Regions from separate parts of the Homo sapiens genome. Here region 1 is linked to region 2. The links come from fine-mapping of genetic effects on gene expression. A gene starts in region 2. The other region holds a variant in brackets. All regions are shown on one strand. Distances are between the middles of the regions. Region 1 overlaps RHBDL2 (rhomboid like 2). Region 2 holds the start of RRAGC (Ras related GTP binding C).

Evidence for each region. PIP is the estimated chance that this variant, and not a neighbour inherited with it, causes the effect.
Region 1: its variant is the best candidate, but not a certain one, in a credible set for the expression of RRAGC in skeletal muscle (GTEx, PIP 0.63).

What each region holds. Positions count from the first base shown.
Region 1 is chr1:38,895,969-38,898,991 of GRCh38, reverse strand. RHBDL2 (rhomboid like 2) reads left to right here. Exons shown (of 8, transcript NM_017821.5): 5 at 2,923-3,023. Among named protein-coding and RNA genes, the nearest start is that of GJA9-MYCBP, 16 kb to the right of the region's middle. The variant T/C (reference allele first, on the strand shown) is at 1,370.
Region 2 is chr1:38,858,284-38,860,783 of GRCh38, reverse strand. RRAGC (Ras related GTP binding C) reads left to right here and starts at 1,012. Exons shown (of 7, transcript NM_022157.4): 1 at 1,012-1,374. The coding sequence starts at 1,138. RRAGC-DT (RRAGC divergent transcript) reads right to left here and starts at 891. Exons shown (of 2, transcript NR_186075.1): 1 at 545-891. RefSeq lists an enhancer at 793-1,087 and a silencer at 723-1,482.

The DNA.
Region 1 (3,023 bases), 38 kb before region 2:
CAGTGTGTGGTTTTGTCCTGATATATTTTAAGATTGAGATGTAACTCACCTGTCATAAAATGCCCAGACTTATGATGTGTGGAAACAAAAGAGTTTTCCAGTACAGAAAGTTACTTAGCCTCTCTGGTGCTGTGTAAGCAACAGGTAGTCTTCCCACTTCATTTTTGGTGGTTCTTTCCTTGGCTTGGGTAATTTCCTTGCATGCTCCTTTCTGGAGTTTTCTGTATGCAGCTTTCTGCTCTCTGGTACCCTGTCTTGTAAACTCTAGCAGTCCAGATCTATCTGGACTCTAAACTTCATCTCATCAACTTAAAGTTTGCTGAGATCTGCCTGGGTTCCTGCTTCATGCGCTGTATTCTGTAATCTCCCTCAAGGTAGTACCTGGGCAATCAGATAACTCATCTATTAATAACTGATTCCCTGTCTCTAAGGGTTTACTGGTTTTGTTTTCTGATGTCTAGTATCTTGAAGACCATTCTTTCCTATATGTTGTCCAGTGCTTTTGGCTTTTTCAAGTGAGACAGCAAATCCTATTCTTGTGACCTTATCATGGTCAGAAGTAGACATTTGTATCTATTTTAAAAATAAATTTCTCATATGATTATGATATAATCACCCCAGCCCTAGTCTATAGGTTAGCATTTGAGAATCATTGCTCTAAGTTGCTCTGGACTACTTCTTTGTTTTTTGAGACAGAGTCTCATTCTGTCACCAGGCTGGAGTGCAGTGGTGCGATCTCAGCTCCCTGCAACCTCTGCCTCCCAGGTTCAAGTGATCCTCGTGCCTCAGACTCCCCAGTAGTTGGAATTATAGGCATGTGCCACCACAGCCAGCTAATTTTATTTTTTTTCAATTTTTTTGAGACAGAGTCTCACTCTTGTTGCCCAGGCTGGGGTGCAGTGGCGCCATCTCAGCTCACTGCAACCTCCACCTCCAGGGTTCAAGCTATTCTCCTGCCTCAGCCTCCCAAATAGCTGGGATTACAGGTGTCTGCCACCATGCCCGGCTAATTTTTGTATTTTTAGTGGAGATGGGGTTTCGCCATGTTGCCCAGGCTGGTCTCGAACTCCTGAGCTCAGCTGATCCACCTGCCATGGCCTCCCAAAGTGCTGGGATTACAGGCGTGAGCCACCGTGCCCGGCCTACTGGACTACTTCTCACTGATCTTCAGTCATCCATATACCTGTTTGTATGCCATTGCTTTTCCAGTTCTCTAAGTCCTGAATACCTTCTTCTCTTTTGTTTTTCTTATCCAATCCTTTTGTGTGTGGGGGTGAGGGGAGAGGTCTTCCTCTGTCACCCAGACTGGAGCGCAGTGGCACGATGATAGCTCACTGCAGCCTCAAACTCCTGGGCTCAAGTGATCCTA[T/C]TGGCTCAGCCTCTTGAGTAGCAAGGACCACAGGCGGGTACCACCATGCTTGGCTAATATTTTTCTTATATTTTTGGAGACGGATATCACTCTGTGGCCCGGGTTGGTCTCAGACTCCTGACTTTCTGGCCTCAAGCAATCTCCTGCCTGGGACTCCCAAAGCACTGAGATTATAGGAGTGAACCACAGTGTCTGGCCAATCTTAAAGATTCTTCAAAGTTTAGGCCGGGCGCAATGGCTCACGCCTGTAATCCCAGCACTTTGGGAGGCCGAGGTGGGCAGATCACGAGGTCAGGAGATCGAGACCATCCTGGCTAACATGGTGAAACCCCGTCTCTACTAAAAACACAAAAAATTAGCCAGGCGTGGTGGCGGGCGCCTGTAGTCCCAGCTGCTCGGGAGGCTGAGGCAGGAGAATAGCATGAACCTGGGAGGCAGAGCTTGCAGTGAGCTGAGATCACGCCACTGCACTCCAGCCTGGGCGACAGAGTGGGACTCCATCTCAAAAAAAAAAAAAAAGATTCTTCAAAGTTTAATGAAAATGCTATCTCCTCCTCCTCAGAGTAGCAAGGACTCCACCCTTCTGCTGAGAAAATCACTCCTTCCTAAGTGCTTCTACAATAAATTTATTTTTGTCATAGTAGTTGTTATATTCTGTACTTTATAATAGTTGTTTGCTCATCTCTTTGTAAAATTACTGAGGACAGACACTTTTTCTTGCACAAAATAGGTACTGTATTGTTTTGTATCATACACTAAGGAAATGAAAGAAGACCTTGAAAGGAATAGACCAAGTAATAGAACTAAGCAGTATAGAGAGAATATTTTAGTCTTTGCATAAGGTGGTTTGCAAAGCCTTGTTTTGGTCCAGTAAATCTAGGATTAGGTTAGCAATTAGGATTCATCTTGCTTGGGGAATCTGATTGGATCGTATGTTGAGAAGGATTCTGAGGGCACATTATGGCTCATTGAGAAAGATAGCTATTAGATAATAAAATGTTGGATTGTCTCAGGTATTTTGACTGAACATAGGATATTTTGCAATAATATTAGGTTGATGCAAAAATAATTGCAGTTTTTGCCCTTAAAAGTAATGGCAAAACCGCAATTACTTTTGCACCAACCTAATAGCTAACAAATATATAATACACATCAAGCAGTATTCTAAGCACAAAACACACATCAACTCATTATTTACCCTGACAATCCATTAAGGTAAGTTCTATTAATAGCCCCATTTTGCAGGTAGGGAAACTGAGACATAGAGAAGTCAACTAACTTCCTCAAGTCACACTGCTGGTAATTCTGGCTCCAGACGATTCTGCCATTGTCACTGCTATGTTGCTGTTCTAATGAACATTCCATGTTTTCAGAAACACTGTGGTAGTTAGCATATACAGCTATGCTTCTATGGTATGAAAGGGGCAAAATAGATTTGTTGCTTGCTAATGTGATAATAGACCAGACTTCCCAAATGTCTACCTTAGATTAGAAAGATTTATCTTTCCTGATCCGTATAGTCATGTCTGATCCTTTGTGTTTTATTTCTTTAGGGTCCCTTGCCAGCTCCATCTTTGACCCACTCAGATATCTTGTGGGAGCTTCAGGAGGAGTCTATGCTCTGATGGGAGGCTATTTTATGAATGTTCTGGTG
Region 2 (2,500 bases):
GCTGTGCTTTAAGAGGATCCTCTTCTCAAACTTCCAGTTCTAGAGCCTGATTATCAAAAATAAAAATTCCTCTAGATTTCTCGGACATATTTGGTGACAAGCATTTGCTTTTGTTTGCTTTCATTATTCAATACTTTGGTCTCTAATCTGAACGAGGTCATAGAAGAGGCAGTGTTCTATGGGGGATGGAATTCCTAGAGTAGACTTTGACAAGGCGGGAAGGAGGGCAAATTGAGTCCCGTTGGGTTTGAAGTGGCAGCAGTATCCACTATCGGCGACTTACTGAAGAAAGAAGATAAGATGTTCTAGCTTGGCTGCATCTGCTTTCCCATCAGGGTCCAGCTACCTGCTAGAACAAACTATCACGGTGACCCATGACTCTGCCTTGGTTGAGGTTTGCCCTCAGTGTGGCTGGCTCCCCCATACCTTTGCACATCCCAATCTATCCATCCACCTAGATCTGCTCAGACGCTTTCTCATTCAACTCCCGAGCATTATTTATCCGTGACCTTCCCACATAATATTTCGTAGCGAGGTTACTTACGCAGAGGTCCGATCTCTCTGTTCATCTTCAAGCAACCTGAAGGCAGGCAGGGTCTGCGTCGGATCCAGTTCTGTGCCCCTTGGTAGGCACCCAGGACACTGCAGGCATCAATAAATATCGGTTGGGCAAGTACAGTTGCAGGATGAGGACAATCAATTCTTCCTCAAATGCCGGGAGAGCATCTCCATAGCGGTGCTCTGGGAGCCCGGAAGAAGGCAGGGGAGCGGTGCAGACAGCGTTGTATGCGGGCCGGGGCGGAGGGCTGAGGGCCCGAGCCGGGGCTAGAGGCGCGGCCGGGCCGCCCTCCTCGTGACTCCTCCTCCCCCCTCCGCGGCTCTGAGTCAGGTGATTCCGGCACGTGACGGGGCACCACCTACCCTGCTGCTCTCGAGTAGCAGCTCGGGCGGCCAATAAGCGGCTGGGCTTCGGCTCGGGGCCTATGAGAGCCGGGCTCCGGGGGGCGGGCCGGACTGTGGCGGCTGCCGGGGGCGGTGGCGGTGGTGGCGGCGGCGGCGGAGGCGGACTGGGGAGGCGGCGGCCTGGCTCGGCCTGGCCTGGCCTGTCAGGGCGCGGGCGGCGGCGGCTCCAGCACCATGTCCCTGCAGTACGGGGCGGAGGAGACGCCCCTCGCCGGCAGTTACGGCGCGGCCGATTCGTTTCCAAAGGACTTCGGCTACGGCGTGGAGGAGGAGGAAGAGGAGGCGGCGGCGGCGGGCGGAGGGGTTGGGGCAGGGGCAGGCGGTGGCTGTGGTCCGGGGGGCGCTGACAGCTCCAAGCCGAGGATTCTGCTCATGGGACTCCGGCGCAGCGGCAAGTCCTCCATCCAGAAGGTGAGCAGGGCTGCGCCCAGTCCCCCGCCCCCTCCCCGGTTCTCAGGTGGCCGGTAGCGGGGACGCCCGGGAGGGCGGCGGCCGGGGCCCGCCTGCGCTCCGTCCCTCCGCACTTTCTCTTCCACTCTTGCGAGCGCACAGGCGCGGCCCGCGCGGGGACCCCGACCTCTGTGTCCACGCCCAAGTCAGCTGAAGCCAAGTGGAGCGCTGAAGGCGAAACTGGTTGCCGGGAGGCAGGTGCCCGGTGGCACCGCCCAAGACCTCCGCCCCCTGGGACCCAGCTCCTGTGTCATTTACGAAACTGAGACGTACTCTCCAGTTCTCACTTGGAGAACTTCGTGGACTCCCTCCCCTGGCCCGTTTTGATTTGTTCTCACTTCAGGTGACCTGAGTGTTTCGGGATTCCCAGCAGAGCCCCAGGGAGCAGCGTCAGGAAGAGTTGTGACTAAGACACTGGGCGTTGTAATTCTCGCTACTGATGTGAAGGAGACTTCGCTGTAGCATTACTGGGAATTGGGTAGTGAGATTGCACCCATTTCAGTAGTTGTGGCCTGGTGAATGTAATTACTGGTGCTGTTCCCCCTGTAGGGGTGTGTTTTTAAAAATCTGAGACTTTGAGAATATTTTGCAGACCTAGTCTGTTTGTTTTCACTTTTGGGCCTTCATGAACAAATGGAGGGCTGTACACGTTTGTTTGTTTATGTTTTTGAGACGGAGTCTCTCGCTCTGTCGCCCAGGCTGGAGAATGCAGTGGTGCAATCTCGGCTCACTGCAACCTCCACCTCCCTGGTTCAAGTAATTCTCCCGCCTCAGCCTCCCGAATAGCTGGGATTACAGGCGCGCGCCACCACGCCCGGCTAATTATTGTATTTTTAGTAGAGACGGGGTTTCACCATGTTGGCCAGGGTCATCTCGAACTGCTGACCTCAAGTGATCATCCGCCTTGGCCTCCCAAAGTGCTGGGATTACAGGTGTGAGTCACCACGCTGGCCTACACTGTTTAGTGAGGGTTAAATAGAGGCAAGGTTGACTTCCTCCATCAGCCAAACCCATTATACGCGGAGTGAGCTGGTAATAAAACTAGTATCAGCAGGCACCTGGTCTTTTCACCTCTCCACTCTGTTGC